3 linked regions of the Homo sapiens genome follow. The protein of the gene in region 2 purifies or fractionates together with the protein of the main gene of each other region. This does not show direct contact. Each region holds a gene or a part of one and is shown on either strand. Other genes may lie near its edges. The genes, in order: SPAG5, DEUP1 and GOLGA3.

Region 1 (3,747 bases), on a different chromosome or scaffold from region 2:
CTTCTTGCTTGGCATGAAGCCCTACCTACAAAAGAAAGATTGCCTAGGCGGGAACCCCTTCCCTTTGGATACAGCAAAGTGGGAGTATGCAACTACCCTCCCAGTCTGTCAGCACAGACCCCAGGAAAGAAAATGCCCTTAAATTACCAGTTGGGTCTGGGCATCCTTCAGAAGGCCTCTGAATTCCCGCATGGATGCTAGGTCCTGTTCCAGCTGGCTGATGCGCTGGCTGGCGTGTGCACAGAAAGCCTCCAACACTATCTCTGCCTATTGAGGGAAGTGGTTGCAAGGCCACAGTGGGCAACAGGGGAGCCAGCACAAAAAGATGTAACCATGACACCTCAATAGATCAGTTCTTTACTGCCCAGGGCAGGCAGTTCTTAGGCCACCCATCTGTGTCTAAAGTGCATTTGTGTTCCTGCAGGAACCTTGAGGTGGAAACCTCCCACATCCAAGAACAAATGCCTGTCACCTTACCGCATCCTTGCCTCTGAGAGCCATTTCCTCTCTGTGCCTTGCCTCCTCCCTTTCTGCTTTGAGGCTCTGGAGCTTTGCCCTCAATTTCTTCAGCAAATCAAAACAGCAACAGACCAATGTTTCTGCACGCCGAGACTATATGGTAAGAATCAGTTAATGTGTCTGGTTCCTCTTTATGGCTTTTAGTCCCACCACAGGCCTCCACCTCCATCTTCAGGCTGCTTACCTCCTGACTCACAGTAGTCTTATCTTCTTCTAAATGCAACAGGGATAGGTGAAGCAAGGATATCAGCTCTTTAGAGATAAGCACCCATGATTGCTGTAGAGAAAAAAATGGGTAGGTGAGATCAAATAAAGTCACTAAGCAGGAAACAGGGGCACTGGGGAGGAAAACCGCTAACCCCAATTCCAAGCTCCGCATAAGGAGATGTACTTTACAAATGTTTGGAAACCTCCCTTCACCACCACGACTTAGTATCACCATCTACTAACCACCCAGGATTCTCCATTCTTCATCTTCACAGGAGACCCAGTGGTGGTGTAAGGTCAATCATCACTTACCATGACATTTCTGGCCTGCTGTAGGGCCTGTCCCATCTCATGGCTCTCCTTAAGATGCTGAAGTTTATTAGTTATCTAGCCAGAAAAACAGAGTTGTTCCTTGTTTTGTTTGTTTGTTTGTTTTTGAGACAGAGTCTTGCTCTATCATCCAGACTGGAGTGCAGTGGCACAATCTCAGCTCACTGCAACCTCCACCTCCCAGGTTCAAGCAATTCTCATGCCTCAGCCTCCCAAGTAGCTGGGATTACAGGCATGCACTACCACACCCAGCTAATTTGTATATTTTTAGTAGAGTCGGGGTTTCACCATGTTGGCCAGGCTGGTCTTGAACTCCTGGCCTCAAGTGATCCACCGACTCGGCCTCCCAAAGTGCTGGGATTACAGGGGTGAGCCACCATGACCAGCCAAGTTGTTCCTTTTGAGTAGGCAACATGTACCACCAGCACCTCATTCTTCCTCCCACCCAGTGAGTTATAGGAGCCTTTCCTATTTTATTTATTTTTTATTTTCTGTAGAGATGAGGTCTTGCTATGTTGCCCTGGCTGGTCTCAAACTCCTGGCCTCAAACAGTCCTCCTGCCTCGGACTTCCAAAGTGCTCCTGCCACACCCAGCCACCTTTCCTATTAAAAGCAGAAGCAAAGTACTCAATTCAATGAAGCCAAGTCAGAAAGAAAAATCCACAGGTAGGTAAAAAATTTCTTTGTTTAGCCAGGCACAGTGACTCATGCCTGTAATCCCAGCACCTTCAGAGGCTGAGGCAGGAGGATCACTTGGGTCCGGGAGTTCAAGACCAGCCTGGGCAACACAGTGAAACCCCATCTCTAAAAAAAAAAAAAAAAGGCTGGGCGCGGTGGCGCACACCTGTAATCCCAGCACTTTGGGAGGTCAAGGCGGGCGGATCACCTGAGGTCGGGAGTTCGAGACCAGCCTGACCAACATGGAGAAACCCCATGTCTACTAAAACTACAAAATTAGCCAGGCGTGGTGGCACGTGCCTGTAATCCCAGCTACTCCGGAGGCTGAGGCAGGAGAATCACTTGAAACCGGGAGGCAAGGTTGCAGTGAGCCGAGATTACGCCACTGCACCCCAGCCTGGGCAACAAGAGTAAAACTCCGTCTCAAAAAAAAAAAATTTTTTTTCATTAGCCAGGCATGGTGGCACATGCCTATATTCCCAGCTACTCAGCTGGATTGAGGTGGGAGGATCCCTTGAGCCCAGGAGGTAGAGGCTGCAGTGAGCCATGTTCGTGCCACTGCACTCCAGTGTGGGTAACAGAGTGAGACCTCGTCTCAAAAAAAAAAAAAAAAAAAAAAAGGATGAACCAATTTATATCCTGCAGATAAATAGAGTATGCTTACCAGCATTACCTATTTTATTCTTTGCTATTGAGTCACAAGAAAATGGCATCTCACTGTTCAATTTGCATTTTTTATTGCCAATAATGCTAACCTTCTTAGGTATTTATTCATCATTTTTACTTTCTTAATTGTCTGCTCATTATCCTGGGTCAGATAGATAAAACTCATAGTATGCATAGAGTAAGTAGGTATGATCTCAAAGGCAGTAGAACCCCAGAAGACAAGTTCTAAGAGAAAAGTGGGAGTCTTCATTACTGAGGCAAGGCAGCCATCATCTGGGGGAAAAGTTACTACTGGAGCAGCACTGCTGATTTCTTGGAGTTCATGGCTCCCTTCCCCAGCAAAGCAGTTATCATTCACTGCTGCATCGTGAAATAAGGCACAGAGTAGCACATGAGCTTGGATAGGGCTCACATCGTGCTCAGCTGGACAGTCAGGCAGGTGATGAGATTAATGTGAAGGAGGCAGCCAGGCAGCAAGGACATGGCATGCTGATGGAGAATGGCTAAAGGTATGTCATTTCCCCTCTTTGGTTCTGCTTCAGTGGCCTACAAAGGGACCTGGCAACCTTCAGGGGAAGAGGATGCATGGCAGATTCAGGGATGGGAAACAAGGTCAAGAACAAGAGGAAAGGACACAAAGATAAGAAAACAGGAGGGAAATTGAACAGCTGGAGGAACATGGAGCTTATGGTTTCCAGGATTTTTGGCAAATGGTAAGGTCATTACTTTGAGGATATTTTCAACTCAAAGGAGGTCTCTGCACATTTGGGGACCATCTCTTCTTAGCAGCAGCCACCTATTATCTCAACAGCCACAATGGTGAGGTGCTATCAATTCCTTCACCTGCCACCATTCCCTTCCTTCTTAGGCCTGTGTTGTAATACAATCCTCTAGAACATTGTTGTTGTTGTTGTTTGAGACAGCCTCACTCTGTTGCCCAGGCTAGAGTACACTGGGTGATCTCGGCTCACTGCAACCTCTACCTCCTAGGTTCAAGCAATTCTCATGCCTCAGCCACCCAAGTAGCTGGGATTACAGGAGTGCACTACCATACCCAGCTAACTTTTGTATTTTTAATAGAGATGGGGTTTCACTATGTTAGCCAGGCTGGTCTCAAACTCCTGGCCTCAAGTGATCTGCCGGCCTCAGCCTCCCAAAGTGCTGGGATTATAAGCGTGAGCCACCACATTGGGCCAACAGTGGTCTTTTAGCTACTTTCCTCTAATATTTCCTGCAAAAACTAAGTACCCTTAAGTTTAAATTGTTGCAAAGGCTGTAATGTCCAGCATATTACCAATATTGACAATTTAAAATAATTTTTTTTTTTTTTGAGACAGAGTCTTACTC
Region 2 (3,747 bases):
ATTAGCCGGGCGTGGTGGCGGGTGCCTGTAGTCCCAGCTACTCGGGAGGCTGAGGCAGAAGAATGGCGTGAACCCAGGAGGCGGAGCTTGCAGTGAGCCGAGATGGCACCACTGCACTCCAGCCTGGGCAACAGAGCGAGACTCCGTCTCAAAAAAAAAAAAAAAAAGGAAAACATTAAACCTACAGTTTGCTAAGGAAGATCCTGACTGCTAAAGAAACCGACTCAACCTTAATGTTTGGAGAACACTGGATTTGGAGTAAGATGATCTAGGTTTACATCTTGATGTATCATCCATTTCAAGTGCAAATCCATGGACAAATCCATGGACATATCCTTCATTCTCTCTAAGCCTGGGTTTCCTAATCTTCTGAAAGAAGCTATTAATAACACCTGATACACTTGCTGAGTGTATTTCTGAGCCTCTAAAGAAATAATGAACATGGAAGCACTTAGCAATGTTACATAGCCTTAGTGATCTTGGGCATCCTGAGATTTCATTAAATTTCGTTCCTAGTTCCATTTTCCCTTCCTTGGGTTAGAAAAAATACATTGACCCATTCAATTCAGATAAGAATAAAGAATATACGCGTTTTCAGAATAATGAAAAGTTTCAAGTTAAGATAACACAGTCACTCTCTTCATGCAAACATGAGAGCTATGAAACACCTGTTAGAACTGATATCCCAGGTGACCGTATACAATTCATCTATGAAGCTCAATTTGTCAAGAAACAGCATAATGGTTTTATAAAATTCAGATGGGACCTGGACGGAGGGATGTGGGTGCGCATTAAATTCATAGAATATTAAAGTAGCAAATTAGCGTTAAAGTGATGAAAGTAAAGTGCAAATAAAAGACTTTAAGAATTAAGTAGTCGACTCCATGTGTTAGGAAGGAATTATTTGGTTAAAATAAATCAAATACAAAATTCAAGTGCTTAAAACAAATCACTCAAGATGTCAGTTGGAAAACATATATTCTTTCCTATTATTTCCTCTATGAAATGGAGACAGAAAATCTGTCATCAATGACTCTTGGAATTTGGTGGAAAAAGGAAAGAATCTGGAATCAGTCCCGTTGAGTTTCGTTCCAGCTTCTCCTCTTAGAAGCTATTCTCTTCTCCCTGAAGGGAGGCAACACTGTCCGTTCGCCTGACTGGCAGTGTTTTAAGGACCCATCGCGCTTGACGGGAAAGTCAGGTACAAGCTGATGCTGTTATCACCACAGGAACCAGGGGCTGAGCGGTGAAATCCAGCTCCTCCCAGCTGGAAGACGCTAGGGTGAACGGAGATAAAAGCAGTTCTCTTTACCCGAAGTTTATTTCTTTTTCATGCCACTTCAAATTTGGGTAAGAGGAAAGAGGGCCAAGGGGATTTAAGGAACCTGGATGATGAACTCCCCAGCGGTTTACAGTTCCTTCGTGATCTATTTGGTTCATTCATTCAACAAGTATTTCCGGGCTGCAGCTTGGGTGCCCAGCCTTGGGGTAGGCAGTGGGACTACAAAGAGGAAAGGACCCAGAATAGAGGGGGCACTGGACGTATAACTGCGGGACAGCGAGGTCGCGCTCGCGCGGGGTGAGGTTGGAGGCAGCCGAGGAGCCGCACAGGGCAGCGCCTGCCGCCGCCGCCGCGCCCATCCCCCACTCCGACGGCCACGAGTTCGGGCCGCGACGTCCCCATGGCAACACGCGGCGGCGCCGCGCGCGGGGAGGGAGAGGCCCAACTGCCTCGTTGGTCGCGCGGCGGGAGGGCCCAGGCGGCGGGAGCGCGGCGGCGGGTGGCGGGGCCCCTTGGGGCGGGCCTGGCGGGGCGGGAGGTGACATACGCGGTCCTGCGCCCTCGCCTCAGACCTCTCGGGCGAGCGCGGCGCAGCGCAGGTAATGGCTCCTGGCCTTCCCGGCCCCGCCTCGCCCCTGACCCTCACCCAAAGGCCAGGCTGCGCGGGTCCTCGAGCGGGACAGGGGAACCCCAAAAGGGCGGCCGCTCTGCGGGAGGCTGGGCTTGAACCGAGCGCGGGTCCTGGAGGGGCGCGTGGCGCGGGGACAGAGGCTGGGAGGGGAGGCCCGCGCTTGCAAATCCAGAGCAGAGCTGCGCCCTAAGTTAGAAGGACTGGGCTTCAGTTGTGTGGCCTTGGGCAAGCCACTTAACTTGTCTGTGCCTCAGTTTCCCTGACGTTTAAGTGAGATATTTGAGAATCTACAAAACCATTTATTGGTCTGCTCCTTCTGGTCAAGTTTTCCTTCACCATCCCTGCTCCTCTCCGCTCTGTCTCTCTTAATTCCAGGGTCTCTCTTAAAACTCTTCGATTTGGAAGTGATGTGAGCTCGAATCTTCCTCCTCTTTCTACCTCCTTGAATGTTCTTTAATTGACTTTTATTCAGTGATTCGGAGGAGTTGAAGTCCTTTTCAATACTTTCTCCAGTTATCGTCATAGATTATTTTTTAACTAAAATTGTGTTACTGAGAAAAACTTTTTTTTTTTTTTTACTTTAGGCAAATGCTAACATCCCTATTTTGTCAAGAGGTGAGCCAGTGCCCATAGAGCCATTGAAGAATTTCAAGATTTCTTTTTAAAGGCATTCTTAGCCTTTTTGTCCTAAATCTCATAGTTATAGTCATCCTAACAAAACCCAGATAGGGCCAAAGAAAGAATGTACTCAAATAAAGGCACACCTTTAGGGGAACCACAAGAATAGAAAGTTTGAGAACATCTGGCTAGAATTTCTCTTTTAATGGGAATTCTGTTTTACTCATTCTCATGTACTGAGCCGTTTGCGAACAACGTAGTACAAGCTATTATTCAATAAGTAGTAAATGGATGCTCATTTTAGTCCGTACCACATATTTCAATAAATCACTAAGTCAATATCGTAAATGCATAGGGGTCGCTAAACAAAAAACTCAAGTTTGGGAGGCCGAGGTGGGTGGATCACGAGGTCAGGAGTTCGAGACCAGCCTGATCAACATGCGAAACCCCGTCCCTACTAAAAATACAAAAATTAGCCGGGCATGGTGGCGATTGCCTGTCCCAGCTACTCAGGAGGCTGAGGTGGGAGAATCGCTAGAACCTGGGAGGCAGAGGTTGCAGTGAGCTGAGATCGTGCCTCTGCACTCCAGCCTGGGCCACAGAGCTAGACTCCGTCTCAAAAAACAAACAAAAAACCAAAACAGAAAACTCAGGTTTCTATATTTTGTAGGATCAAGAGCTACTACACAGAAAAACTCATACTAAATGGTTTTTGCCAGTAGCAAAATTTTCATGTTTTATAGGTTAAAGAATATAAACATTTTAGGAACTTGTATCATTTTCCTCCTAACAGATTAAAAATCAAGAAATATAAACCAGATGTAGCAGTTTCTTGACATGGAGAACCAAGCCCATAATACGATGGGGTAAGTGCTGAGAAATTTCTGTTTAATAAGTATGTGCTTAACTGTGCCAAAAACTTCCTGAGAACACATGAATTTTGAAATTTACTATTAATAGAAGGATATGCCAATTATTTTTGGTGAGGCGGATGAGAGGAAATATGAAGTGACTGTAATTAAGGATTATAATGCGAGACTTTCTGATTTTGACACTACAGATCTGCACTCAAAAATCACTGTTTTCCAACTTTTAGTGACTGTCCAATATCTAAGGGTGGTGGATGCGGAGGCAGGCCTCGTGTGCTCTTCTGTTACCACAATGCAACCTTTCTTCGCCAGCTTGCTCCTTTTTTGCCGCATTGAGTATCTCAAGT
Region 3 (3,747 bases), on a different chromosome or scaffold from region 2:
CCATTGTGCCCAGAATAATTGTATTTTTTTTTACTGTCAAGTTTTGAGAGTTCTTTATATATTCTAGCTACTAGTCCTTCAACAAACGTGGTTTGAAAATATTTTCTCACAGTCTGTAACTCATCTTTTCATCCTCTTAATGTGGTCTTTCTCACAAGGTTGGTTTGTTTGTTTTGAGATGGAGTCTCGCTCTGTCGCCCAGGCTGGAGTGCAGTGGCACGATCTCAGCTCACTGCAACCTCTGCCTCCCAGGTTCAAGTGATCCCCCTGCCTCAGCCTCCCGAGTAGTTGGGACTACAGGCACACACCACCACGCCCAGCTAATTTTTTTGTATTTTTCATAGAGACAGGGTTCACCATGTTGGCCAGGATAGTCTTGATCTCTTGACCTTGTGATCCACCTGCCTCGGCCTCTCAAGGTGCTGGAATTACAGGCGTGAGACACTGTGCCCGGCTTTTTTTTTTTTTTTTGAGACGGAGTCTTGCTCTGTTGCCCAGGCTGGTGGCACGATCTCCGCTCACTGCAACCTCTCCGCCTCCTGGATTCAAGCGATTCTCCTCCAGCCTCCTGAGTAGCTGGGATTACAGGCACATGCCACCATGCCCGGCTAATTATTATATTTTTAGTAGAGATGGGTTTCACCATTTGGCCTGGCTGGTCTCAAACTCCTGACCTCAGGTAATCCGCCCACCTTGGCCTCCCAAAGTGTTGGGATTACAGGCGTGAGCCACCGCATCCGGTGAAAAGTTTCTAATTTTTTCATGAAGTTTACTCTATCAACTTCTTTTGTGAATTGTGTTTTTTTGGTCAGATCTAAGAACTCTTCCCCAAGCTCTAGATGTGAGAAATTCTGTTTTCTTCTAAAAGTTGTATATTTTACGCCTCAGTCTGATCATTTTGTGTTAGAATTTGCATTTGCAGATAACATGATGGCCCATGTAAAAAATACAAGGATTTTACAACAACAACCGCAAAACACCAAATGAACCCTCAAACTAATGAGTTCAGCGAGGTCTCAGGATAAGAAAATCAACATAGAATTCATCACATTTGTGTAGACCAACAGTGAACACGTGGAAAACGTCAAAAACGCAGTGTTACAGTTGTTTGATGTGAAATACTATAAACTTAAAAGGTGCAGAATCTGTATGCTGAAATTACAAAATGCTGGTGGAAGAAATCAAAAGACCGAAATAAATGGAGGGGCCACCAGGGACGCAGATGAAGGACCGAGTCAGCGATGCCCGTGCTCCCCAAACGATCTGCAGCAGTTCCCATCAAAATCCCAGAAAACTTCGTAGACTGAAGCGTATTCCAAAATCCGCAGAGATGAGCGCAACATCACAGAGGACCCCGAGGCGCCCTCCAGGCCATTTCCTTCCTGACAGCTGGAAGAGCGGCCTGGCGGATGAGGGAAGGTGGAAAGCCGTTCCCCAGCGGCCAGCGGCCCGCGCCGTCCAGCTTTGCCCTTTTTAAAGGGGAAGCAAATAGGGTCCAAAGCAGCGTCGCCTTTGATCTGGCACCTGAAGCGCGAAGGGCGCCGGCCGGGTGGAGGTGCGGGGTTGGGGCGGGGACCCGACTAGGGCGGGCGGGGAAGTCACGCCCACACCGAGCTCGGCCGCGCCCATGCCGAGCCCCGGCCACGCCACTTCCGCCGGAAGCTCGGTTCAGCTTCCTGAAAGAGTTGGTCCTGCAGTTCCGGAAGTTGCGTTTCTACTAGGGAAAGGTCCGCAAACTCTTAAGGTCACTTTCTGAAGGCGGCCTCATCACAGTCGGAGGTGAGCTCGATCCGGACCCTGTGGGCAGAGGGTCCCCGGCCCTAGGGTGGCCACTTGAAGAAGAGGAGGACGTTCTCTGTTCCGGAACGAAAGTAGCGCGTGCAGGCTGTTTCCGGGGACCCGAGGCCGATGCACCGCTCGCCCCGCCCCTCTCACGGCCACGTCTCCGCCGGAGCATCCGGGCCGGGCGGCCTCCGGGGCTGCCAGAGCAGCAGGGTGAGGGGCTCGGAGGCCGCGGCGCCTCGGGGCTCGGGCTCCCGCTCCCGCTCCCGCTCCCGCAGTGCATGGGCGGGGGAGGCTCGAGGGGCGGCGGCGGGGCCTGGGCGCGTCCCTGCAGCGTGGCGGGACGGCCCCGTTCCAGTCACCCCCGCCTCGCTGCGGTGGCCTCGGGCCTGGGCGCCCGCCTTCAGCTGCGGCGGAGCTGGCTCTGTAAATGCCGGTGCCCGCGAGCCCTCCTGAATGCTTGTCTGCGCCCGACGAGCGCGGCCTGTCCCGAAGCTGTCCACTGCCACCACTCGGGCAGTGCTTGCTTTAGCCTGGCCCTTTGCAGCTGAAAGGCGTGACATGGTGTCGGGTGGTTCGTGGGAAGTCGGGGTTTCAGGAGTCCGTGTACTTCCTTGTTTGTCTTTGTCGCTGGCCGACTTGTCTTCATTCCAGGTGGCCAGAGCGAGTGGGGCCGGGCGTTGTCACGGGTATGAACCCGACGAATGTCAGTCGTGTGGCGGGTCCTGGGTATTGTGGGTCTGGGTCACTGCCCCCGCGGAGCCCACCTAGGACAGGGACACCCAGGGTCGCCAGCGAGAGGGTACCGGGCGGTGGTTGGGTGGGGTCCGCTACTCTAAGTGGGAGCCTGGGGGGCGGGCGACTTCCGTGCTAAGGCCTCTATGACGAGAAGCAAGCCAGGCAAAATTGTGAGAAAAGCGCGCCTCAGGCAGAAAGTTTGAAGACCCTGAGGGCGGAGGATGTGGCCACAGTGTAATGGCAAAGGGGGAAAGCGATGGCGGTAAGGATGTTGGTGTAGGCAGGTGCTGGATTCTTAAGAGGTTGGAGTTTATTGTCACTGGGCCAGTGTAAGCCATTTACAGATGACTCATGGATTTTTTTTTTTTTTTTAAGAGACTGGGTGTGTTGCTGTATTGCCCAGGCTGGTGTGGAACTCCTGGCCTCAAGCGATCCTCCCACCCCAGCCTCCCAAAGTGCTGGTGTTACAGGTGTGAGCAGCCACACCCGTCGTCGTGGATTATTTTGAACTGTCTTTTAAACGACATCAACATAGCGCTTTATAACCCTTTAATATCTTTTCAGGCAGTATACCTTAAATGGCAAGAAGGAAATAAATCATCTGACATCACTCAGATTGAAGAGGAGCTTTTTTTCCCCCGATTGCCTTAAGAAGTAGCATACTTTCCCAAGTGAGAATGCCTTCAGTTGGCTTTTAGCGATTTTGACAAGCAACAACTAAAGGGAAAATCGTGATAATTACTGTCATTTTATTGAGGACACGGGACAGACTCTGTGCCTTGTTATATTTAATCCTGGCAAAATTTTGCGTTCATTTTCTCATTGTTTTACTGGTGAGGAAACAGGCTAAATGTGATTAAGAAATCTTTAGCCCAGGCTCTCACAGGTAAGTGGTGGAGGGTCGGGAGCTGAGGCCGGAGTCCTGACTTCCAAGCCTGCCCTTCACGTCTCTGCAGTGACATGAGGCTTGCTTGCTTTTGGTTTTCACTTTGTGTATAGATCTGTGTTTACTTTTGGATACTAGTGTGGCCTCCACCAGGTACTCTTTTCCTGAGGAAATCGTGTTTGGTTTTTGGCTGTGCTCTGTTGTTTCTAATACCCGATAGGAACAGGTGAAACGAGGTGGTGTAGATGGAGCCGTGAATGTTTGTATACAGAATTCAGGTGTGGGGGAAGCAGAAAGTCCTGTAGGTGCCTGAGGTGGTGGTTTCTCAGTATGAAGTCCCT

The links.
Region 1: the proteins of DEUP1 (region 2) and SPAG5 purify together in Homo sapiens (affinity purification with mass spectrometry; 3 studies listed by BioGRID and IntAct, with this or other methods). This does not show direct contact.
Region 3: the proteins of DEUP1 (region 2) and GOLGA3 purify together in Homo sapiens (affinity purification with mass spectrometry; 3 studies listed by BioGRID and IntAct, with this or other methods). This does not show direct contact.

What each region holds. Positions count from the first base shown.
Region 1 is NC_000017.11:28,585,387-28,589,133, forward strand, and holds part of SPAG5 (sperm-associated antigen 5), read right to left. Parts: intron 1,114-3,747; coding exon 1,039-1,113; intron 797-1,038; coding exon 704-796; intron 613-703; coding exon 478-612; intron 268-477; coding exon 148-267; intron 26-147; coding exon 1-25. UniProt on the Homo sapiens protein: Essential component of the mitotic spindle required for normal chromosome segregation and progression into anaphase. Required for chromosome alignment, normal timing of sister chromatid segregation, and maintenance of spindle pole architecture.
Region 2 is NC_000011.10:93,328,892-93,332,638, forward strand, and holds the start of DEUP1 (deuterosome assembly protein 1), read left to right. Parts: upstream 1-1,850; 5' UTR 1,851-1,881; intron 1,882-3,324; 5' UTR 3,325-3,368; coding exon 3,369-3,397; intron 3,398-3,747. UniProt on the Homo sapiens protein: Key structural component of the deuterosome, a structure that promotes de novo centriole amplification in multiciliated cells.
Region 3 is NC_000012.12:132,827,051-132,830,797, reverse strand, and holds the start of GOLGA3 (golgin subfamily A member 3), read left to right. Parts: upstream 1-1,928; 5' UTR 1,929-1,995; intron 1,996-2,408; exon of another isoform or gene 2,409-2,782; intron 2,783-2,895; exon of another isoform or gene 2,896-2,990; intron 2,991-3,084; exon of another isoform or gene 3,085-3,191; intron 3,192-3,747. UniProt on the Homo sapiens protein: Golgi auto-antigen; probably involved in maintaining Golgi structure.